7 linked regions of the Homo sapiens genome follow. The protein of the gene in region 7 interacts with the protein of the main gene of each other region in a biochemical or structural test. Each region holds a gene or a part of one and is shown on either strand. Other genes may lie near its edges. The genes, in order: TOP2A, HNF4A, UBE2D4, UBE2B, RBBP8, EIF2A and RNF4.

Evidence for each region.
Region 1: of the proteins of RNF4 (region 7) and TOP2A, one has a biochemical effect on the other in vitro, tested with the Homo sapiens proteins (one study listed by BioGRID).
Region 2: of the proteins of RNF4 (region 7) and HNF4A, one has a biochemical effect on the other in vitro, tested with the Homo sapiens proteins (one study listed by BioGRID).
Region 3: the proteins of RNF4 (region 7) and UBE2D4 form a complex in vitro, tested with the Homo sapiens proteins (one study listed by BioGRID).
Region 4: the proteins of RNF4 (region 7) and UBE2B form a complex in vitro, tested with the Homo sapiens proteins (one study listed by BioGRID).
Region 5: of the proteins of RNF4 (region 7) and RBBP8, one has a biochemical effect on the other in vitro, tested with the Homo sapiens proteins (one study listed by BioGRID).
Region 6: of the proteins of RNF4 (region 7) and EIF2A, one has a biochemical effect on the other in vitro, tested with the Homo sapiens proteins (one study listed by BioGRID).

Annotation. Positions count from the first base shown.
Region 1 is NC_000017.11:40,400,897-40,404,396, reverse strand, and holds part of TOP2A (DNA topoisomerase 2-alpha), read left to right. Parts: coding exon 1-20; intron 21-123; coding exon 124-245; intron 246-1,342; coding exon 1,343-1,491; intron 1,492-3,315; coding exon 3,316-3,500. UniProt on the Homo sapiens protein: Key decatenating enzyme that alters DNA topology by binding to two double-stranded DNA molecules, generating a double-stranded break in one of the strands, passing the intact strand through the broken strand, and religating the broken strand.
Region 2 is NC_000020.11:44,400,699-44,404,198, forward strand, and holds part of HNF4A (hepatocyte nuclear factor 4-alpha), read left to right. Parts: exon of another isoform or gene 1-674; coding exon of another isoform or gene 675-789; intron 790-1,855; coding exon of another isoform or gene 1,856-1,946; intron 1,947-3,500. UniProt on the Homo sapiens protein: Transcriptional regulator which controls the expression of hepatic genes during the transition of endodermal cells to hepatic progenitor cells, facilitating the recruitment of RNA pol II to the promoters of target genes. Activates the transcription of CYP2C38.
Region 3 is NC_000007.14:43,946,936-43,950,435, forward strand, and holds part of UBE2D4 (ubiquitin-conjugating enzyme E2 D4), read left to right. Parts: intron 1-1,696; coding exon 1,697-1,802; intron 1,803-3,500. UniProt on the Homo sapiens protein: Accepts ubiquitin from the E1 complex and catalyzes its covalent attachment to other proteins. In vitro able to promote polyubiquitination using all 7 ubiquitin Lys residues, but may prefer 'Lys-11' and 'Lys-48'-linked polyubiquitination.
Region 4 is NC_000005.10:134,374,569-134,378,068, forward strand, and holds part of UBE2B (ubiquitin-conjugating enzyme E2 B), read left to right. Parts: intron 1-2,100; coding exon 2,101-2,126; intron 2,127-3,500. UniProt on the Homo sapiens protein: E2 ubiquitin-conjugating enzyme that accepts ubiquitin from the ubiquitin-activating enzyme E1 and transfers it to a E3 ubiquitin-protein ligase. In vitro catalyzes 'Lys-11'-, as well as 'Lys-48'- and 'Lys-63'-linked polyubiquitination.
Region 5 is NC_000018.10:22,981,828-22,985,327, reverse strand, and holds part of RBBP8 (DNA endonuclease RBBP8), read right to left. Parts: intron 3,111-3,500; coding exon 2,935-3,110; intron 443-2,934; coding exon 338-442; intron 1-337. UniProt on the Homo sapiens protein: Endonuclease that cooperates with the MRE11-RAD50-NBN (MRN) complex in DNA-end resection, the first step of double-strand break (DSB) repair through the homologous recombination (HR) pathway.
Region 6 is NC_000003.12:150,574,287-150,577,786, forward strand, and holds part of EIF2A (eukaryotic translation initiation factor 2A), read left to right. Parts: intron 1-1,362; coding exon 1,363-1,476; intron 1,477-3,500. UniProt on the Homo sapiens protein: Functions in the early steps of protein synthesis of a small number of specific mRNAs. Acts by directing the binding of methionyl-tRNAi to 40S ribosomal subunits.
Region 7 is NC_000004.12:2,475,606-2,479,105, forward strand, and holds part of RNF4 (E3 ubiquitin-protein ligase RNF4), read left to right. Parts: intron 1-3,500. UniProt on the Homo sapiens protein: E3 ubiquitin-protein ligase which binds polysumoylated chains covalently attached to proteins and mediates 'Lys-6'-, 'Lys-11'-, 'Lys-48'- and 'Lys-63'-linked polyubiquitination of those substrates and their subsequent targeting to the proteasome for degradation.

The sequences.
Region 1 (3,500 bases), on a different chromosome or scaffold from region 7:
TATCCCTTCTATGGTGGATGGTGAGTTCCAATTTGTTAGTCTGTTTTCATTGTAAGATGGAAATCAAATTCCAAAATTGGTTAAATTGAGGATACTTACGTTTGCTCTTATTTCATTTTAAAGGTTTGAAACCAGGTCAGAGAAAGGTTTTGTTTACTTGCTTCAAACGGAATGACAAGCGAGAAGTAAAGGTTGCCCAATTAGCTGGATCAGTGGCTGAAATGTCTTCTTATCATCATGGTGAGGTAAACACACAATCCATGTTTCCAGAAAGCATTATATCAGAAATCCCTGCAGAGTCATTCTCAAAACAGATTTGGTGAAAGTATAAGCTCATATATTCATAGTAAAGAACAAGTTGGTAAAACCTGTGAAAGAATAAAACTGCTTGCCCTTTGATTTCTGAAAGTAATATTCCTGCAGGGATATTCATAAGTCTGCAAAGGTCTACATTAAAAAATGCTTAGTATGTTTATTATAACTTTGTGATGTCAAAATTTAGACCTCCACTGATTTGAAAATTGTTATAATAAATTGTGACACATGTATGCATGGAATCAGTGCTGTAACTTCAGTAAAACTGTGTGCACTGACACTGAGGAATATCCAGGGTCTATTCTCAGGTGAGGAAAAAAAGAGACAGAACAATAACTAAAAATGTCTACAAGGATATGTTCCAAATTGTTCACTTTAGTTACCCCTGAGAACTGGAAAGGGCAACTTTCACTTTTTATATGTGTCTGAATTGTTTGACTTTACACCAATGTTTTGTGATTACTTTTTGCATTAATTATGTAAAACAGTTTTAAAGAACTAGATTGCCTACAGGTTTCTAGAATTTTAAATATAATGGTTGTCTTGTTGCTTTCAATCAAAATATAGTAGGGATACAATAAATTTTCACCCAACGAACATTTGTTGAATGCCTACCATGTACCAGGTATACAAAAATAAATAAAAATATGTTCCTTATCCCCAAGATATAATAACAATTTAGCCAGAGGGCCAATACACACACAGCTATAGAATAAAGTGATACATGCTAGAATAGAAATGAACACAGCATTGTAACACAAAGGAGGAAATATTTCATTTTGCTGAGGATAAGGAGAAGAACTATGCCTTCAAAGTTGAGTGGGATTTAATAGAAATTGTTGGACGGCAGCCCTAAACTTGGAGCCAGAAGTTGTAGGTTCAAGTACTATTTCTGCCATCTATTAATCTGAGGAAAGTCACTAAACAACTAGACCTCACAAAATGTTACAGGATTATAGTGAGGTTAAGTCATAATGTATTTGTATTAGTAAAAGCCTCAGCTTAATGAATCTTTTTTTCCCCACAGATGTCACTAATGATGACCATTATCAATTTGGCTCAGAATTTTGTGGGTAGCAATAATCTAAACCTCTTGCAGCCCATTGGTCAGTTTGGTACCAGGCTACATGGTGGCAAGGATTCTGCTAGTCCACGATACATCTTTACAATGCTCAGGTAGGTATGCTTTCACTTTCTAGTGACTTGCCATTTCCAGTTTTGAAACAATGTGAGATTTAGTTCACCAAAAATACAAAAACTCAGTTAATCAGAAGATACTGGCATCTAGTGGCAGAGGCCAGGGGTGAGGCTTATACAGGAAAGCCCCCCCATAACAATTATCCAGTGCAACATGTCAATTATGCTAAGGTTGAGAAATCCTGATGTAGAGCTTGGGACTGAGTAAAGGAGACTTTGATTCTTCCTAAATATCACAATTGAAATTTTACTCCTTTACAAGCCTATGGAAAGTATATTATGAATGGTCAATTTTCAGCTGTCATCCCAGTCACCCTTTCAGTGGCATTCAAACAGTTACTAATTGCTCCATCCTTCTTGAAACTCTTTATTTGGCCTCTATGACTGTAGACTCTTCTGGTTCTCTTCTACCTTATTAGCTTTCTCTGCTGGGTCCTTCTCACCTTCCCAACCTCTAAATACTGGCCCATTCCAGGGCTCCTTCATCAGATCTCTTTCCAATGCCTACACTCAATTCCCAAATGATCTCCCATTCATCCGTTCTATACCTTTAAATCTCCAGTCTTGGTCTCTCCCCTGAACTCCCAACTTTTATGTCTGACTGCCCTCTTAACATTTCCCACTTGGATATCTAGTTAAGTATCTCAAACATAAGTCTAAAACCAAATCCTTAGTTTTCCTGTCTCAGTAAATGGAATGCCATGCCATCCTTCTAATTGCTCAGGCTAAAAACCTTGTCACCCTTGACTCCTTTGCTTGATACTTAACATCCAGTTCCTCAGCCAATCCTATAGGATCTGCATTGGAAAAATACTAAGCCACCCCCATCTCATCTAAACTATTGTAACATATCATCTTTTCTTAAAGCAGCCAATTATTTTTTAAAAAATAAGTCACTCTGATTCAGAACCTTCAACTGCTCAGAGTAAAATCTAAAGACCTATTTTAGCTAACCAGACATTATGTGATCCGTGTCCCCACCTTCCATGTCTTTTGATTCCTTCTCATACCATCTCCTCTCCAGCCACACTGTCCTTGGCCTATACTCAAATATACCGAGCACATTTCCTCTTCAGGGCCTTTTACTTACTGGTTCCTTTGCCTGCAACACTCTTTCTCTAGATATCCACATGGTTCAGTCCCTCAGTTTGTTTTTTGTTGTTTTTTTTTCTTTTGAGATGGAGTTTTGCTCTTTTTGCCCAGGCTGGAGTGCAGTGGCGCAATTTCGGCTCATTGCAACCTCTGCCTCCTGGGTTCAAGTGATTCTCCTGCCTCAGCCTCCCGTGTTGCTGGGATTACAGGTACACGCCACCATGCTCAGCTAATTTTATATTTTTAGTAGAGATGAGGTTTCACCATGTTGGCCAGGTTGGTCTTGAACTCCTGACCTCAGGTGATCTGCCTCCCTCAGCCTCCCAAAGTGCTGGGATTACAGGCGCGAGTTACTGCACCTGGCGCCCTCAGTGTCTTTTCTCTGCTCAAATGTTTTCCTATCAGAAACGGCTTAACTTTCCTTAGCACCTCTTCAGTCACTTTCCCACTTTTTCTTCTCTTGTTTATCCCACCACCTAACAAAATATGTGTTAATTGCAAACTTCTACTGGACTGTGAGCTCCTTGAGGATTGAGACTTTATGTCCATGTGCGTGACACATAGCAAGTGCTCAATAAATATTGTTAAATGTATATTAGTCAGCAAGTAAAACCAAGATAATTTTCATGTATAATACATGTCCTTTCCATAAAAGTTAAGTGTGAAATTCAGTATTTTTGTAAAATAACATTCTTTGTTTCTTTTCTTTAGCTCTTTGGCTCGATTGTTATTTCCACCAAAAGATGATCACACGTTGAAGTTTTTATATGATGACAACCAGCGTGTTGAGCCTGAATGGTACATTCCTATTATTCCCATGGTGCTGATAAATGGTGCTGAAGGAATCGGTACTGGGTGGTCCTGCAAAATCCCCAACTTTGATGTGCGTGAAATTG
Region 2 (3,500 bases), on a different chromosome or scaffold from region 7:
GGCCCTCCCAAACTTCCAGTCCATTCTGCTCCCAGGGGAACCGGGAAACTGCGGGGGAACTGGAAGGGAGCTCCCAGAACAAGGATCCAGAAGATTGGCATCTGGGGCCTGGGATTTAGGTTTCTAAATCGTGGGCCATGGGGCAGCCTTATCTCTGCAAAAGCATTGAGGGTAGAAGTCAATGATTTGGGAAGTTATTGAATTAGGGGATCTCGGAGGTAGGCTGTCAGTGCCTGATAGTATCAGTTAGAATGCCTGACTTGGGGTGACAATGGCTTGGAGGGGTGGGTGAGTCAAGGGTCAAATGAGTGCCCGTGAGTCATGATGCCTGCCTTGTACAATTGATAACTGAACATCGGTGAGTTAGGGCCCCAGCAGTTGTAATTAGCACCCCGGGTGTCAGCCAGAAACCAACAAACAGCCAAATCCCTGCAGCCCCGCCCAGCCTATCCACCGGCGGGGGACCGATTAACCATTAACCCCCACCCCTCCCCGGCAGAGCCTCCACCCCTTCACAGAGGCTAGGCCAAGACTCCCAGCAGATCTTCCCAGAGGACGGTTTGAAAGGAAGGCAGAGAGGGCACTGGGAGGAGGCAGTGGGAGGGCGGAGGGCGGGGGCCTTCGGGGTGGGCGCCCAGGGTAGGGCAGGTGGCCGCGGCGTGGAGGCAGGGAGAATGCGACTCTCCAAAACCCTCGTCGACATGGACATGGCCGACTACAGTGCTGCACTGGACCCAGCCTACACCACCCTGGAATTTGAGAATGTGCAGGTGTTGACGATGGGCAATGGTAGGTGGGGGCAGATGTGCCCAGGTGTGCCAGTGGGGGCAGGTGTGCCTGGGTCCAGGAGCAGATCTTTGGCACTCAACTTTGGGGTGGGAGGAGAATGATACAAAATGGTAGGTTGGTCCTACAGGCCAGCACAGGTGTTGCCAAGTGAAGCCCATGTGCCCAGGCACAGTGATCACAGGCATTCTGGGTGAAGGGAGGCCTGCAAGGGCCAATTTCCAGCAAAAGTCGATCCCGGCTATTCCTCCCAGGCCCTTCCAGTCCTCACTGCCTCACAGTGGCTCTGCTTGGCGCTTGGCACAGTGACGTGATGGTGAGCTCCCCCTTGGTGCCCAGCTCCAGCGATTCAGCCCAGCACGGCCCCTTCGTGAACCCCTTGGGCCTAGGTTCAGAGAGACGGCAAGGGATGTTGTATCCCTGGAGATGGTGGTTGGAGACATAACCGCATTTCTCGGTGTCTTTGGGACTTTCCTAGGGAAATGAAATTGGCACTTAGGGAAAATGGAGCTCTCAGGGAAGTTTTGCTAACTACGAAGCCAACTCAGCACTGTGTGTGTTGTGTGTGCGTTCGTGTGTGATAGTGAGTTTCCATGTAGGTTGTATGGGTGGGGTGATGCCTTCAGGAACCCATTTGCATATGTGTGTTCATTTGTCTCTGTGTGTGAGTTCTGGGTCTATTTTCCTTTGTATTCATTGAGTGGGTCTGTGTTTGTGTCTTAGGAGTTGCCCGTGTTGATCTTGCTTATGTATGTAAGTGTGTATGTGTGTGTACTTGTGTCTGTGGATGTTTGTACATGTGTGCTGTGTGTGCGGGTCATAGAGCACATGCGTTTGTGCATGCGGACCTGTTGGAGTGCCCTGTTCTTCCTGCATCTTTATCCTGTATGGGCGTTTTGTCGTGTGCCCATATTTGTACCTGCTGTGTATATATGCAGTTCCCTGTGCTGCGGGCGGGGGTCAGCGGTCTCTGGTGTGCACGACTGCACAGACCCAAATGCAGGACTCTGTTGTTGCCACTCACCAAGTGAGATTCATATCAGCAACATGTCCGTTTGTCTCTGAGCAGATTTTGTTGCCGCTGCGTCTCGCCAGATTGAGGCATCCCCTCCGACATCACTGGAGCATATCTGGAGGGGTGGACAGTTCTCCACAGGGAGGTAGGGGAAAAGAGGAGGCCCGGAAACCCCTCCTGGAGGGAAGAGCCCCATCGGTCCCAGGCCAGCCTCAGAGGAGAGGGGGCAGGCAGCTGGCTGAGGTCAGCCTGCCACCCTGCTTCCTTCTGTGTCTTGGAGCCACTCAGCCAGTATGAGGCTGCAGCTCCAGCTGAGGTCTGGAATCTTGTGGTCAGCTCAGCTAGGGTGAGGAGGCAGCTGCTGGGCACTGCTTGTTGTCAGCTCAGCAGGTGCTCACCTGCCCCTGCCGTCCAGTCACGTGTGACCTTGGGCATGTCACCTCCCCTATCCTGGCTTCTGTATCTTCTACAAAACAGGCTTCATTCCCCCAGGCCTGCTGGCTGGACGGCTTTTAGGCCTGTCTGAGGACCACGCCAGGAGCGCAAGGCAAAAACACACCAGAGATAGCAAACAAGCTGCTGCTGCACTAGGTGGAGTGTTGTGTGGCCCCACGAGGACCACTGCCCTGCCCTGGGCTGCTCCCCGCCCCCATCACTTTTTCCAAGCCCAGGAACTGTGTGCTCCTGAGGCAGAGGCCAAGCCCCTGAACTGGGAGTCCCAAAGACAAGACCACCTCCAGCTCTGGAACCAGAAAGATCTGGGCTCAAATCCGGCATAGATCCTTCCAACCTGTGTGAATGTGGCAAGGCAATTTCCTCTCTGAGCCTCAGTTTCCTCACCTATAAAATGGGAATAAATAATAGTGTCTGTCTCCCAGGGCTGGCCAGAGGATAAATAAGATGAGGTGCCTGGGTGCTTAGCCCTGGTAAAGGGCCTGGCCCCACCATGGGTCATCTCAAGGGCTCTGAGCATCTGTAAGCAGGGTCCCCACATTCCTCACTGGAGTTTGAAGTGGTCTGAATTGGGGTTATGTGAAGTTGTCCTCTGAAGTGTTTTGAGTACATCCTGGGCTGGTGTCTGAAAGGCTCCAAGGATATTTCTCCCCCGTCCTCTCCCCACCCCAATGGAGCAGCAGCCCTGGGTGGCTCCTTGTTCATTAGAGGCCCAGCAGACACCTCAACATGTGTGGCACTGGCTGGAGTAGCCCAGCAAGCCTGGACCATAAACCCATGGCTCTGCTTCACGGGAAGCAGTGCGATGACACCAGGAAGCCACTTTTCCTCTCTAAGCCTCAGTGTCCTCATCTGTGGAATAGAGGTGCTCGGCTGACCTCAGAGGGGAGATGATAGAGCTGACAGCCCCCAGCCCATCCTGCCTCAGAGGTGGGAGCTACTTCCCCAGCCTCCTGCTGAATGGCCAGGAGCTGTGGGGGTCAGCTCTCCCCGGGGGTCGGGGGAGGAGAGGCCGAGGGAGAAAGGGCACCCACGTGGCTTAACAATTATCCCCATCTCCAGGAATAATTCACCAAGTGGAGGGGGCTGCACTCCTGGGGACACCTGGGAGTCTGCGATGGCAGAAATGAGATGCGGCAGTGTCTGCTTGTGCAAGGAGCCTGGAAGTCCTCTGCTCCGAGAGTTTTCCTATGTGGAAAAGTTTTTATTTCATGAACACTGATATAGTGCTTACTATGTGCCAAGC
Region 3 (3,500 bases), on a different chromosome or scaffold from region 7:
TTGTTACATAGGTATACATGTGCCATGTTGGTTTGCTGCACCCATCAACTCATCATTTACATTACGTATTTCTCCTAATGCTATCCCTGCCTCAGCCCCCACCCCCCGACAGGCCCTGGTATGTGATGTTCCCCGCCCTGTGTCCCTGTGTTCTCATTGTTCAATTCCCATCTATGAGTGAGAACATGCAGTGTTTGGTTTTCTTTTTTTTTTTTTGAGACAGAGTTTCGCTCTTGTTGCCCAGGATGGAGTGCAATGGCGTGATCTCGGCTCACCGCAACATCCACCTCCCAGGTTCAAGCAATTCTCCTGCCTCAGCCTCCCGAGTAGCTGGGATTACAGGCCTGCACCACCATGCCCGGCTAATTTTGTATTTTTAATAGAGATGGGGTTTCTCCATGTTGAGGCTGGTCTCGAACTGCTGACCTCAGGTGATCCGCCTGTCTCAGCCTCCCAAAGTGCTGGGATTACAGGTGTGAGCCACCATGCCTGGCCCAGTGTTTGGTTTTCTGTCCTTGTGATAGTTTGCTGAGAATGATGGTTTCCAGTTTCATCCATGTCTCTGCAAAGGATGTGAACTTATCCTTTTTTATGGCTGCATAGTATTCCATGGTGTATATATGCCACATTTTCTTAATCCAATGTATCATTGATGGACATTTGGGTTGGTTCCAAGTCTTTGCTATTGTGAATAGTGCCGCAATAAACATACATGTGCATGTGTCTTTATAGTAGCATGATTTATAATCCTTTGGGTATGTACCCAGTAATGGGATCACTACTGAATCAAATGGCATTTCTAGTACTAGAGGAATACCTTGAGGAATCACCACACTGTCTTCCACAATGGTTGAACTAATTTACACTCCCACCACCAGTGTAAAAGCATTCCTATTTCTCCACATCCTCTCCAGCATCTGTTGTTTCCTGATTTTTAATGATCGCCATTCTAACTGCTGTGAGATAGTATCTCATTGTGGTTTTGATTTGCATTTCTCTGATGACCAGTGATGATGAGCATTTTTTATGTGTCTGTTGGCTGCATAAATGTCTTCTTTTGAGAAGTGTCTGTTCATATCCTTTGCCCACTTTTTGATAGGGTTGTTTGATTTTTTCTTACAAATATGTTTAAGTTCTTTGTAGATTCTGGATATTAGCCCTTTGTCAGATGGGTAGATTGCAAAATTTTTCTCCCATTCTGTCGGTTGCCTGTTCACTCTGATGATAGTTTCTTTTGCTGTGCAGAAGCTCTTTAGTTTAGTTAGATCCCATTTGTCTATTTTGGCTTTCGTTGCCATTGCTTTTGGTGTTTTAGTCATGAAGTCTTTGGGCCTGAGCTTTTCTGCTGATACATCAACAAAACATCACTGCTTTTTGCATAAAACTTCCTGGGCTTTTGAGTCCTTTCCACCACCCTTGTTATTCCTCAGAGCATACTGCTTTCAGGGAGATGGTATCAATCCCCCTATGTTCAGAATGAGAATCCAGCAGGGAATGGGTCAGGGAACTTCTGGGTGATCACTCACTCCCATATCCCATTAGAGTTTGGGAGTGGGGGTCTGGCTTAGCCTGCACTGTGGGGCCAGGTATGCAGCACACTCCAGGTACTGCCCAGCAGCAGCTGCTTCTGCTTTACTTGGTTCATTTCCCACACGTCCCTGTGGTTTGTCTGATTGGGGATCTCTTGTCTTTGCAGGTTGCTTTCACAACCAAAATTTATCACCCTAATATCAACAGCAATGGCAGCATCTGCCTTGATATCCTGCGGTCTCAGTGGTCTCCAGCGTTGACTGTGTCAAAAGGTAGAGATGCTGATGGCATGCTCTGTGTGCTCTTTTACACATGTTTTTACCCCAGCACTGACTGAGTGGAAATGGAAGCTCAGAGAAAGAAGTCACCTTTCCCAGGTCACATAGCCCTGTCCACTGCTGTGCCCTTAAGTGGATATCCTTACACGCCTACGAGGCAGCACCAGCAGAACTTTGTGCCCCGCTCCCTGGCGCTTCTCAGCAGTCAATTGCCCTGGTGTGCTCAAGACTGTCACATGGGTGCAAGAAGAAAATACTGATTCTACTTATATTTTTTTATCCAAAAATAAGAAAGGCAAATATTACATTACCTTCTCTGTTCCCTCATTTATTCATCTAATAAGCACAAAACGGACTGTGAGTCAGCCCTGAAGGAAGATACAGGGCATGCCTCCGGGGGCCTCGAAGTTGGTGGAGAAATCCTCCCTTCCCAAAATAAATGATGTTGAGCACATGTCTTTGGTTGAAGTTGAAGAAACCAGTCTAAACTGAGCTTAGAAATGCAGATATTCCTTCTGAATTAAGATGGGCTGTGCATGGGCTATGTATGCACGAGAGACCTGAATGTAGATGGTGCAGTATCCTGGCAGGTGGAGCGTGGGAGGATGGTGAAAAATCAACCCAAGAGAAACAGAGCCTGGCCTAAATTTTAAATTTTTCTGTAGAGGAGACAGGGTCTCACTTTGTTGCCCAGGCCATTCTCAAACTCCTGGCCTCAAGCAGTCCTCCCATTGTGGCCTCCCAAAGCACTGGGATTATAGGCGTGAGCCACTGTGCCCAGCCAAGTATCTTAAGAAAGGCAAACCTGCCCCTGTCATTTGTAGCTTTATGTGTGGGGACCTGTGGTCAGAACTTTGATGGACTCACTGAATCCAGTTTGTTTGGAATCATATGGTGAGTCGAAAGCAAAGCCAGGAATGAAAGTGTGCATTTCTCTCTGGGACCCCAAGAATCCAGGCACCACAATTCCTTCTGCTCCTCACCACAGCCCTAGTGGGTGATTCCCTTCCCCTAGGGTTGCTGAGAGCCACATTGAGTGCACATCTTAGAGACGGTGCTGGCACAGAGGAGGATGCATCTGCTTTGCAGTTAGAAGGACCTGGTTCAGAATTTCTTTATTTTTTTTTTGAGATCGAGTTTTGCTCTTGTTGCCCAGGGTGGAGTGCAATGGCGCGATCTCGGCTCACTGCAACCTCCACCTCCCAGGTTCAAGAGATTCTCCTGCCTCAGCCTCCTGAGTAGCTGGGATTACAAGCATGCACCACTATGCCTGGCTAATTTTGTATTTTTTTAGTAGAGACAGGGTTTCTCCATGTTGGTCAGGCTGGTCTTGAACTCCCGACCTCAGGTGATCTGCCTGCCTCGGCCTCCCAAAGTGCTGGGATTACAGGCAAGAGCCACCGCACCTGGTCCAGAATCTCATTTTAATCCATTTATTGGGTGTTCCAAGTCTGTGACCTTGGACAAGTTACTTGAATGCTCTGAATTCTTGTTTCCTTAACAGTAAACAGGACTCCTAGGACTAAATGCCAGAGGTTCATGATGTAGGGTACAGACAAGGATGGGAGGGCAGTTGGAGACTAAGATGGGGTGCTTCAGTGGAGAAGGGGAATGAGAACCAGGATGCACCCAGGAGGGAAGTATCCTAGCACAGCATGCCTCAGGCCACACAGTGAGGACCACCTCGGCTGA
Region 4 (3,500 bases), on a different chromosome or scaffold from region 7:
TAAGGACTAAAACTGCAAGATAAATTAGAAAAAAAAAATATTTCAATTAGAGTTTTGGCCCAGCACAGTAGTAGCTCAACGCCTGGGAGGATCGCTGGAGCCCAGGAGTTCACCAGCCTGGGCGATATAGTGAGACAGTGAGACTCTGTCCCCTCCCCACCAAAAAAAGTTTTGGCCCAGTCTGGGCAACATAGTGAGCCCTTGTCTCTACAAAAAGTATAAAACTAGCTGAGCATGGTGGTGCATACCTGTGGTCCCAGCTACTTGGAAGGCTGAGGCAGGAGGATCACTTGAGCCCAGAAGTTTGAGGCTGCAGTGTGCCATGATTGTGCCACTGCCCTCCAACATGGGCAGCCAGCAGAGCCAAGATCCTGTATCAAAAAAAAAAAGGAAAAAGTTTCAGCAGTTATATAAAGTTTATTTGCTCTTTGATGTTATTACATATGGTTTTATAATCTCTTGGGGTTTTACTTTTAAAATACTATTCAAAACTAAATGGAATGGAATAATAAAGGAGAAACAATAAGTTACTTTATATAAAACATATCACGCAAATGCTCTCATTCTGTTGGAGCTGTTAAAAGGTTTGGAACCAAAAATATTAAGAACTTCCACTGTGGCAAGAATTTAAGCGAAAATGATTCACAGCCCAGTGTGAAATAACAGAATGCAGCCATTTGAGAAGCAGTTGTAAATTTTACCTACTATGTATATTGCGTATATGCTTTTTAATTTAAAATTTCCTTATGCTTTTTCTTTGGTTTTTCTAGACTTGATCTATTTTTTCTTTCATTCCTTTGAAACTAGAGTTTTGCATTAAAAAGTAAAAGGAGTATGTTGATAAACAGAATTCTGACACTACAGAATCAGCTACAAGAGTCTACATTTAAAGACTAGTGGAAAATGAGTGAAGTTCATCCTCATAAAGTACTTCTGAATTTGAGTTGAATACATGGCACCTTCAGGATATTATCCTGCTGCTTTGAGATCCTGAATATGCCTTGCAAGTAATAATTAAACTTTATGCTCCATCCTGGCTAACACGGTGAAACCCCGTCTCTACTGAAAATACAAAAAAAAATTAGCCGGGCGAGGTGGCGGGCGCCTGTAGTCCCAGCTACTCGGGAGGCTGAGGCAGGAGAATGGCGTGAACCCCAGGGGGCGGAGGCTGCAGTGAGCCGAGATTGCGCCACTGCACTCCAGCCTGGGCGACAGCGAGACTCCGTCTCAAAAAAAAAAAAAAAAAAAAAAAAAAAAACTTTATGCTGCTGCTTAGGAAAGATGAAATTGGGATGTGGGGACAAGGATCTGAGCAAACAAATCTGGCTTTTTGGTGACAACTATGCTTAGCCTATTTGAACAAGAGTTATGGCTCCATTGGAAAGCAGGACACTTGGGTTTAGCATCATAACTAGAGTATTGCTTTACATCATATTGCTGTAAAATGAAAAGATGTCTTTTCCTCTTAAGAATATACATATGGGCCAGGTGCGGTGGCTCACGCCTCTAAATCCCAGCACTTTGGGAGGCTGCGATGAGTGGATCACCTGAGGTCAGGAGTTCGAAACCAGCCTGGCCAATATGGTGAAACCCCGTTTCTACTAAAAATACAAAAATTAGCCAGGCATCTGTAATCCCACCTACTCGGGAGGTTGAGGTAGGAGAATCACTTGAATCCAGGAGAAGGAGGTTGCAGTGAGCTGAGATCATGCCATTGCACTCCAGCCTGGGGGACAAGAGCAAAACTCCGTCTCAAAAAAAAAAAAAAAAAAAAAAAAAAATATATATATATATATACACATATGTACAAAATGACTGGTCAGTATTAATGAAAGTTTTTTTGTGCTAAAATTATGGGCAAGTTTTTTTGTTTGGTTTGGTAAAACCACCCTAAAAAGAAAGCTTAGAATGAAAGTTAATACTTTATGCCTGGGTCTATGAAAATCCAGGGCTAAGGTGTTACTAAACTCTATCTTAAAACTCCACAAATCATCAGAATGAGTCCCTCTTTTTCTGTTGAAGTTTATCCTTTCCATTCTTGAAAATCAAGAAAAAGCAGAATGAGAAACTTCTTTTAATCAGAAATCTTCTTGTTTTCAGACCAGAAGGGACACCTTTTGAAGATGGTAAGTCATACTCATTATGTTTTCTATAGTGTTATGAGGTTACTTTTTAGTAGAAAATTGTAACACCAACATATCTACTTGAAGCCATTTTCTATGGTTAATAGGCCAAGTTAAAAGTAAAGCTATGGAAAATTTATACTTCATAAGGGACTTCTTCCCACAGCAGCTTGGTCACCTCCATTGGTAACCAATATTAAAGGTTACTTTAATATTTTCCTGTATAACTGTAAGCCTGGATGGCAGTGTTTATGTTGAGAATAGTTTAAATTTAGGTGGCCTTAAAGATATCTCTGAGGTGAACACCAGAAGAGTAAATCATGCTTTTTTACTTTGTTATCTTTGATATTGACAGGGTGTTGAGCTGAAATTTTTCATAAACATACATAGCTGCCAGTAGTTTCAAGTACTACTAGCATTTAACACCCATAAGTAGTTATCATTTTGCATAATCTTTGGCATCTCAAGTTGGGTATTTTCATCAGGGGCTAGGAAAATGGGAAACTAGTTCTAATACCGAATTTATAATTGAACTTATCAAACTGATTTTAACCAGGAACTTAGACTTTTCCCAATTGTAGTGTTGGATTTTAAGAAATTATTAAACATCTTTGTTATCATTAACAAAATGACTTCAGAATTAATCCATCAAAAATATTTATCCGAGAATACTGACTGCAGCAGTTTGTAAGGACGTAACCTGAATGTCCAGTAGGAGAAATGGTTAAGCAAATTATGATGTATCTGGATTCTGGAATATGTACCTGTTAAAGAATAAGGTAGATTTGGACATACTGTCTTAAGAGGACAAAAAAACTGCACGATAATGTTTGTCGTAGCATCACATTTTTAGCAAATACATATATGCATGTGTGTCTATGTTAAAGGGTTATATATCAAACTGTTACCAGTGATTATCTGTGGGGGGGGTAAGGAGTTGAAGGAGGTACTTAAGGACGTTACCTTTTTTCTCTACATCAAGGGTTCTCAAGTGTGTGATCCATAAACCCCTTGGGGTCTTGGAGACCCTCTCGGGGGACCCATACGATCAAATCTCATCATACTAAGACTGTTGACCTTTGCATTGATGGTACAAAACCAATGGTGGCTATAACTACACCTAAGTAGTTTCGTATCTTAGAACAAATCAAGGCATTAGACAGTGGCACCAAACCATACTAATAGTGATTATATTCTTTGCATTTTAAAAGATGCCAGTTGGCCAGGGGCAGTAGCTCACACCTGTATAGCCAGCACTTTGGGAGGCTTAGGCAGGTGGATCATGGATCACTTGAGCCCAGGAGTTTGAGACCAGCCTGGGGGAGCCCTTCTCTACAAAAAATTAGCCAGGCATGGTGGTACATGCCTTTAGTCCCA
Region 5 (3,500 bases), on a different chromosome or scaffold from region 7:
CCCTCAACTAGATCATAAGCTCCATGAGGACAAGGGCTTTGTTTTATTCAGTGCCTGGTATACAACAGATGCTTCAATATTTGTTGAACAAATAAGTAAATCACAGTAAAGCCTTCTTTACTTAAAATTATTAGTAATTTATATTAATATGATTAGGGATATTTATATGAATAGGATAACATTACTTTCCAATATGAAAAAGATAGTAAACTAGTAATATAAACAAAATTATATGGAAAATACCTTTAAAATATTGTCTAAGTTAGACTGTGGGTCACTGTTACCCACCAATAACCACAATTTTAAACTTGTAAAGTAATCTCAGTATCTTGCTTACTGGCCATTGGAGATTGACTTTGGTCATAAGTGTCAGCTACTAGAATTTCATTTTCATTAGGATTATGTTGTGGATGAGTTGAAGACTTGGAAACTTTTCTCATTTCTAAGGGGAGAAAAAAATAAGAGATTACACAATAAACAATGATGATGAAAAGCATTATCAAATTATTTTTATTTATTCATATTTAAAATTTTTATGTATTATCTGTATTTAAATCCAATATAAGTACTGTTTTATTGACATAATTATCATATTCTAAGAAGTAAGCTCCTTTAATTTCACTAAGAAACAAAGCTGTTTAAGTTAAGACATTGGGAGAGAGGGGACTAGAACAGACAGCTTCTTCTAACCCAAATTGCCTAGAGTAGTAACATTTTAGTGTTACTTCTCTTTTTATATTTGTTACAAATCAGCAGGTTAATTTAAAAAGGTATACTGGGCTGGGCACAGTGGCTCATGACTGTAATCTGAGCACCTTGGGAGGCTGAGGCAGGAGGATCTCTTGAGCCTAAAAGTTCCAGGCTGTAGTAAGCTACAGATCACACCACAGTACTCCACCCTGGATGACAGAGTGAGACCCTATCTCAAATAATCAATCAATAAACAAATGATCAATCAATCTAATGTATACTATATCATTTATCTCCATGATCTTTGTTTTAGAGTTTCTATTTTCGGGAAGGAAACTCTGAAGCATGCTTTATCAGAAATCACTCCAATATTTAAAGATTTAGTTCAAAGAAAACCAAAATAAGGACAAGGTAAAGTGAAATGGTTTTACTATTTATAACTTGAGAGTAATATTAAAAAGCATTATAAACCTTAAAATAAGCAAGCAAGGGAAGTTAGAGAACAGGACTAATTAGTCATTAAAGCATTTAAAATTATTATTATTATTATTATTTTTGAGATGGAGTCTTGCTCTGTTGCCCAGGCTGGAGTGCAGTGGCATGATCTCAGCTCACTGCAACCTCCACCTCCAGGGTTCAAGCAAGTCTCCTGCTTCAGCCTCTCGAGTAGCTGGGACTGCACGCGTGTGCCACCACGCCCAGCTAATTTTTTATATTTTTAGTACATACAGGGTTTCACCATGTTAGCCAGGATGGTCTCGATCTCCTGACCTCGTGATCCACCCACCTTGGCCTCCCAAAGTGCTGGGATTACAGGTGTGAGCCACCGTGCCCGGCCTTAAAATTATTTTAAAATCATTTGTATGGCTCAAGGTTATCGTACATCTTAAAACCAAATTTCAGATTCCAAGTAAAAAATGATCAGAACAAGGTTAAAGCAAGTGAATTAAATTTCTAAATAGTTACATGCTGCTTTCATACAAAGAAGAAATAAACCAGAAGCATTTATATTGGTTACAAAAGACTTTCCTAATATGGAATTGTTTTCTAGATATTCTTATTTGTGAATTTAAACCTGATGTAAATTATGCAGTGATTATCTTTAATGATTCATGTCCTGTCTGATAGCAAACTAAAAGGTCAACGGATATTCATTTTAGATCTATGATTTTACATTTTAACTTAGCTCCTATTTAAGTGTAGGATTTTTAACAGTTCTTTTGTTTTCCACTAGATGGTGATACAAACGCTTATAAAGTGGGGGAAAACTGTCAATGTTCCAACATCTAAGAATAAGATCTGCTTATTTGTTTAAAGGCATATTTACTGTCAACAATTTATTTGTATTATACAAATATAGTAGTACATATATATCCCCCGTCCCCCATGCTTTCCTTGTTGCAAATAGTTTAGGTTAAAAATTAAAGTCTTTACTGTTTGCTTTAGATTAATACTAAAAGTAATACTTGTATCATGGCACATAACAAATTTTGGGACTATGTGAAAAGACAGTTTTAAAGCATTTAGCAGAAATGATAAACTAGGCTGGAATTAGAAACATGTCACTGAAAAGCCACAAAGTGTACATATTATAACACCATTTCTTGATTACCACTAACTCCTACAAATTACAACAAATAAAAATAGCCAGTTACAGACAGCTCCAATGGCAGGAGTACCCATGTGGCAAGACCTGGAGAGTAGGAAAGTTCAGAGCTAAGAAGATCTGTATTTGAATTTTGACTCATCTACATAATAGCTGACCTTGAGTGAGTTAACCTTTCTAAACATATCTTTCCTCATCTATAAAACAAAAGAGCTGATAGTTATCTCACAAGCCTGTTACGAGAATTAAAACATAGCAATAATACATGCAAATCACTCAGCATAATACCTGGTACACAGGAGGTAGAAATTAACATTAAGTTCCTTTCCTTTTTCCTTCTATCCCACTTGGATATATACACATAGGAATATTTTTAAAATAAAAAGAAAAAAGAAACTATTTACTACATTTATAAAATATGGTATATTTACATGTCATATAGATGACACGTATCTATACATAACACGGGCAGAAAACGCCTTCTCAGTCACTTTACAAATAGAAGTTAAACTCATAGTTGTACCATGGGATACCAGAATAGTGACTATCTTCTTATCACTAGATTGAATAACATAAAAACTAGTAGATGAACACTGGTTTACAAAACCAGAGAACTAAAATACAACTCCAACTCTTACCATTTGCACACACAGAGTGCTCCAATTTAGTATGTGTTTGTTCTATGTATCGGACATGGGGGTTCTCCTTTCTTCGTAGCCGGTTAACGCCAGAAAATGAGAAGGCTGTTATCGGTGAATCTGGAATAACGTCTTCCTCACATTCAAGCTCAGCTGCTTGATGCTGTTGATCATTCCTAGAGAAGAATGACAATGGAAAGAAAATCAATTCAATGAGTATTAAAACATTTACTACATGGCATGGAGTTACAGTAGAACACAAACATGAAGCTCTAAGGGATGTAATCCCTTGCATCTAATGTTCCAAACCTAAGTAGATAAGTACACGAATGATTACAGTACCCAGTGGGAAATACTATGTGAGAAGTGAAGTAGAAAGTATAGTCAATAGCACTTCAGGTGAAATTAAAAGTATTTCAAATTGCAGACAAGATCAGGAGAGAACCCACAGTCTGAGGAAAGGCATGCAGTACTGTGTACTTATGTTGGAGAAGGGAAAGCTGGAATTACATGAACGAGAGCCATGAGCTCAATGTGCACATAATGTAGAAAGCAAGAGGAAAGAA
Region 6 (3,500 bases), on a different chromosome or scaffold from region 7:
ATGATTTATAGTAGTTGTGTGGATTTTTTTCGTCTCAAGTGAAAGGCTCTCAGTGGCTACATGATGCTCATAAGCGTGGAAGAGACTTGTAACTTATCTTTTCTTCTTGTATCATTTTTCATCAAAGTTCTGAGCAGAAACTTTTCGGCCAAAGTAAACTACTACAGAAGAGCCCACTATTGAAAGAATTTTCATATTATGTATAAAACAAATGTTCAGCAAATATTGTATAACTTAAGTAGCATTTTATGCAACATGGATAAAAATGAAATGAAAGAGCCTTGCACTCCAAATTTGTCTGCTGTTCTACAAATGTGGGTTCTCATAATATTCAGTTTGTTTCAAGTAGAATATGAACATACCCAGAACTTTGATGACCTGAAATAGTTAATGCATTTGCTAAGATAAGGTCACTTTATGGTTTCTTATTTATTACTCTGCATCTTAAGTGTTTGAGCTCTGCTCATTTCCATATAGAACTTATAAGTAAAATGCGGATCTGAGACCTAGTACTCAAGAAACTTCATGGAGAGCTGGTACTTTTGATGTGCTGAGTTATGGTACAGTCTAAGAGACAGTTAACATTAAAATAATAGCAATATAGATAGAAATCAGTAAGTACCTGAATCTGATAGAGAGTTGTAGTGCCATCACTTATACTGTATGTTGTCTAAAACTGTTCTGGAGATACATTGAATCTATAATTCACCATCTTTTCTATTGTGGAATATAGTTGTTACATGGTTACATGAATATCTGATGTTGGAAATGATTGTCTTCATTGTGTAATCTGACAAGCCATGTAATTTTTTTTTGGTCTCTTCATATGTCAATCCCAGATTTGTAATTATCTAGTTAATTACTCCTTTCTATTTCATTTATTTTCTTATAATCTATTCTTGTTTTTTCATTTGCTTTTATTTTTAATCTTCTAATTTCTGATTTTACAAGTAAAGATCTAGCAAGTAATTCTTTGTGTGAAGAAAACAAGCGAGGCAACTGGGTTTCTGTTGACAATAGTTAGAACCAAAAAGGCCTCAGAAGAAGCTGTTGTTGGTATCTAGTTTTCATAAGAATCATGTGTCTGTAGTAGTGCTAAGAAAAATTCTGTTTGAACAAAACTAAAGTGAATTTTGCCAGCTCTGATATGATTGAAAGATATAGGAACTAATAGGAAGACCCTAATTAAATCCATCCTGACAGTTGGAGTGTGCCACTACCAATGAGTTTCAAAATAATCTTTGCTAATGATCTTAAATTTGATAAAATAAGTTTATCCTATATTAGCAGAAGTGTATAATTTGTTGTTGTAGGTGTTTACAACATGGACTCCATTTCAAAATTATTTTACATTTTCCATAGCATGAAGAGGAACCACCTCAGAATATGAAACCACAATCAGGAAACGATAAGCCATTATCAAAAACAGCTCTTAAAAATCAAAGGAAGCATGAAGCTAAGAAAGCTGCAAAGCAGGTATTTGGGGCACTAATCTCATAACAAAACAAATAGTCAGTTATGGCCGGGCGCAGTGGCTCACGCCCGTAATCCCAGCACTTTGGGAGGCTGAGGCGAGTGGATCACTTGAGGTTAGAAGTTCAAGACCAGACTGGCCAACGTGGTGAAACCCTGTCTCTACTAAAAATTCAAAAATTAGTTGGCCATGGCTTATAATCTCAGCTACTCAGGAGGCTGAGGCAGGAGAATTACTTGAACCTGGGAGGTGGAGGTTGCAGTGAGCCATGATCGCATCACTGCACTCTAGCCTTCCAGCCTGTGCGACAGAGAGAGACTCCATCTCCAAAAAAAAAGGCAGTTAAGTTAGCTTTAAGCCTTAAAGTTTAAAGAATTGTGGTCCTAAATACTTGACTGTGACCAGGTGTGGTGGCTCATGCCTGTAACCCAGCACTTTGGGAGGCCAACGTGGGAGAATTGCTTGAGCCCAGTTCGAGACCAGCCTGGGCAACATAGTGAGACCCCCATCTCTATGAAAAATTTTTTGCTGGGCACAATGGCGTGTACCCCGTAGTCCCAGCTGCTTGGGAAGCTGAGATGGTAGGATCACTTGAGCTTGGGAGGTTGAGGCTGCAGTGAGCTGTGATTGTACCACTTCAGCCTGAGTAACAGAGCAAGACCATGACTCGAAAAAAAAAGAAAAAAAGCACAAAAAACCTTGGCTCTTACGTTATAAAATGTAGTTGGAGTTAGACTTAAATAGGCAGAATATCTTTCTTTTGTCTTTGCCTATGAATTTCTAAGTAATCCTGTCTATATGATGGGTGACAAAAGAAACTGGACTTGACATCATAACCTGAGACACTAATGGTATTATGTAAGCATGTTACTTGCTGTAGACCCTTTTGGTGGCACTTGTGTGAAGTGGTGTAGTTTGCTTTCCTTGAAGCATGTATTTACTAAGAGAAGCTGGAAATTACATGACTAGAAAGCCATTTGGGCACTCAGTATTATAGTACTATATGAAATTATTTAACTGGGAATCGAAATACCAGAAGTACCCAAATAATGGGATATTTCCAAAATAGTTTCTTACTTGATTACGTAGTTGAAAAGCCACACCAGTGTAAATAATTGACAAATTGTGATATTGTATAGCTCATGGTGATAATGTGATTGGCTGGGCTGGGGATGTCTGGTTAGTGAAGTTATGGTGATCACATTTTTGCAATTCAGGTAGAGTACATGTCTCAATCCATTCAGGCTGCTACCTTATACTAGGTAATTCATAAACAAATTTATTGCTCACAGTTCTAGAAGCTGGGGCGCTGGCAGATTTGGTATCTGGTGAGAACCCGTTCATCATAGATGGCACCTTCTTTCTGTGTGTCCTCCCATGGTGGAAGGGGCAGTGGAGCTCTCTTTGGTCTCTTTTATAAAGCTACTAATCTCATTCTTGAGTGTGGAATCCTCATGACTTAATCATTTTCCAAATGCCCCACCTTTTAATACTATTACATTGGGTATTAGGTCCCAAACTATGAATTTGAGGGAAACACCAATATGTCAGACTGTAGCAGTGGGGTAGGGTTTTTGGATGTTTTGTTTTTGTTTCTTTTGAGACACTCTGTCTCACTCTGTTATCTAGGCTGGAGTGCAGAGGCATGATCACGGCTCACTGCAACCCCAGACCCTGAGCTCAACTAATCCTGCCTCAGCTTCCCAAGTAACTAGGACTGTACATGTACACCACCATTCCCAACTAATTTTTTTATTTTTGTAAAGATAGGTTATCGCTATGTTTTTCAAGCAGGAAATGGGAGTAGGTTTTTTTGGTTTGGTTTTGGCTTGGTTTTTTTTTTTGAGACCGAGTTTTGCCATGTTGCCCAGGCTAGTCGCAAACTCCTGAGCTCAAGCAGTCTTTCCACCTCAGCCTCCCAAAGTGCTTGGATTACAGGCGTGAGCCACTGTGCCCATCCTAGAAAGGGCAGATTTTTAACAGCTGGTTGCTATATCAGTATAGTCTTGCTGATAATTCTTGAATT
Region 7 (3,500 bases):
GGGATTACAGGCGTGAGCCACCTCGCCTGGCCCACACCTGGCTAATTTTTAACAAAGTTTTGTAGACTGGGTCTTGCCCTTTTGTCCAGGCTGGTCTCAGACTCCAGACTCATGATTTAATATCTATGGTTGAGTGATTCCCTACTTCTTACTCTCTTACAGAACCACTCTATAAGATAGTTGTTGTAGTTAGCCCCATTTTACTCTTCCTGAGGCACTGGGAGATCAGGGTCACTTGCCCAAGGTCACACAATTAGTAAGCAGAGCTCGAAACTTCACCCCACCCCTGACTCCTACCTTTGTTCCTTTTGTTAGGCTTTGTTATGTCATCTGCTTTTTTTGTGTGGTGGGAAAGCACATGGCCAATGTTTCTAGAAACTTCAAATAGTAAAAACAAAATAGTATCTTTATTTTTGCTTTCACCGCAGAGGAGTCTGATAATTATCCTCAAGAAAATTTATTGATTCTCAGTAACTGTATTGTATTCCTCAAAGTTATTTTTCCTAAGTTTTCTCCTCTCACCAGCTAAGGGAAGTTGTCCTAGGGCCTAGGCATTTCCCTGTCTGCCACACCTCACCTCTTACTTTAGCCAAACTACTGCTAAATTCTGCTCCTAAATATGGCAGCATTCTGTGTTACCTGCACTAAAATTTGCTTCCCTTGTAAGTACCTTCTTGATGTCTTCCAGTGTTGGTTCTCGCCTCCTACTCTTGCAAGTTGAAAAGTTGAAAATGCCTCAGGTAGAAATGTTCTCTCCTATTCTCCCATCATGATCATCTGTGTTTTTTTGTTTTTTGTTTGTTTTTTGAGACGGAGTCTTGCTCTGTCACCCAGGCTGGAGTACAGTGGCACGATCTCAGCACTGCAACCTCTGCCTCCCGGGTTCAAGCAATTCTCCTGCCTCAGCCTCCTAAGGACCTGGGATTACAGGCATGTGCCACCACGGCTGGCTAATTTTTTGTATCTTTACTAGAGATGGGGTTTCACCATGTTGGCCAGCCTGTCTCGAACTCCTGACCTTGTGATCCACCCACCTCGGCCTCCCAAAGTGCTGGGATTACAGGTGTGAGCCACCACGTCCAGCCCTTTTCTTTCTTTCTTTTTTTTTTTTTTTTAATTTAAGAGAAGGTTGTCTTCCTATGTTTCCCGGGCAGGAGTGCAGTGGCTATTTGCAGGTGCAATTATATAGCACAGTACAGCCTAAAACTTTTTTTTTTTTTTAAAGACAGAATCTTGTTCTTTCTCAACTCACTTCAACCTCCACCTCCTGGGTTCAAGTGATTCACCTGTCTCAGCCTCCCGAGTAGCTGGGATTACAGGTGGGCAGCACCACGTCTAGCTCATTTTTGTATTTTTATTAGAGACAGGGTTTCACTATGTTGGCCAGCCTGGTCTTGAACTCCTGACTTCAGGTGATCTGCCCGCCTCAGCCTCCCAAAGTGCTGGGATTATAAGCATGAGCCACCATGCCCTGCCTACAGCCTCAAACTTTAAGCTAAATTAATCCTCTTGCCTCAGTGTCCCAAGTAAATGGGAATACAGGTGCTGATATGGTTTGGCTGTGTCCCCACCCAAATCTCACATTGAATTCCTACATGTTGTGGGAGGGACCCAGTGGGAGGCAATTGAATCTTGGGGGCAGGTCTTTCCCATGCTGTTCTCATGATGGTGAATAAGTCTCAAGAGATCTGATGCTTTAGGTCGGGGGCGGTGGCTGATGCCTGTAATCCCAGCACTTTGGGAGGCCAAGGCGGGCGGATCACGAGGTTAGGAGTTCAAGATGAGTGTGGCCAACATAGTGAAACCCTGTCTCTACTAAAAATACAAAAATTAGCTGGACATGGTGGTACATGCCTGTAGTTCCAGCTACTTGGGAGGCTGAGGCAGGAGAATTGCTTGAACCCAGGAGGTGGAGATTACAGTGAGCCGAGATCATGCCACTGCACTCCAGCTTGGACAACAGAGTAGACTTAATCTAAAAAAACAAAAGAGATCTGATGCTTTTATAAGGGGGAGTTTCCCTACACAAGCTCTCTTTGCCTGCTGCCATCTATGTAAGGCATGACTTACTTGCTTCTCCTTGCCTTCCGCCATGATTGTGAAGCCTCCCCGGCCATTTGGAACTGGCTTTTGTAAACTTCTTGCTTTTGTAAATTGCCCAGTCTCAGGTATGTCTTTATTAGCATCGTGAAAACATACTGGTACAGTAAGTTGGTACCAGTAGAGTGCGATGCTGCTGAAAAGATACCTGAAAATTTGGAAACAGCTTTGCAACTGGGTAGCAGGCAGGGATTGGAACAGTTTGGAGGGCTCAGAAGAAGACAGGAAAATGTGGGAAAGTTTGGAACTCGCTAGAGACTTGTTGAATGGCTTTGACCAAAATGTTGATAAGGATATGGACAATGAAATCCAGGCTGAGATGGTCTCAGATGGAGATGAGGAACTTGTTGGGAACTGGAGCAAGGGTCACTCCTGTTATGTTTCAGCAAAGAGACTAGCCGCATTTTGCCCCTGCCCTAGAGATTTGTGGAACTTTGAACTTGAGAAAGATGATTTAGGGTATCTGGCAGAATAAATTTCTAAGCAGCAAAGCATTCAAGAGATGACTTGGGTACAGTTAAAGGCATTCAGTTTTATAAGGGAAGCAGAGCATAAAAGTTTGGAAAATTTGCAGCCTCCTGTCAATGTGCTAGAAAATAAAATTCCATTTTCTGAGGGGAAATTAAAGCCAGCTGCAGAGATTTGCATAAGTAACAGGGAGCCAAACGTTAATCCCCAAGACAGTGGGGGGAAATGTCTCCAGGGCATGTCACAGGCCTTCATGGCAGCCCCTCCCATCATAGGCCCAGATGCCCAGGAGGAAAATATGGTTTCCTGGGCTGGGCCCAGGGTTCCCCTGCTGTGTGCAGCCTAGGGGCCTGGTGCCCTGCGTTCCAGCCGTCTCAGCTGTGGCCAAAAGGGGCCAACATAGAGTAGAACTCAGGCTGTGGTTTCAGAAGGTGCAGGCCCCAAACCTTGGCAGCTTCCACATGGTGTTGAGCCTGCGAGTGCGCAGAAGTCAACAATGAGGGTTTGGGAACCTCCACTAGATTTCAGAGGATGCATGGAAACACCTGGATGCCCAGGCAGAAGTTTGCTGCAGGGGCGGGACACTCATGGAGAACCTCCGCTAGGGCAGTGTGGAAGGGAAATGTGGGGTTGGAGCCCCCAAGCAGAGTCCCTACTGGAGCACCACCTGGTAGAGCTGTGGGAAGAGGGCCACTGTCCTCCACACCCCAGAATGATAGATCCACTGACAGCTTGCCCTGTACACCTGGAAAAGCTGCAGACACTCAACACCACCCAGTGAAAACAGCCGGGAGGGAGGCTGTACTCTGCAAAGCCACAGGGGTGGAGCTGCCTAAGGCCATGGGAACTCACCTCTTGGATCAGCGTGACCTGGATGTGAGACATGGAGTCAAAGGAGATCATTTTGGAGCTTTGAGATTTGGACTGCTCTG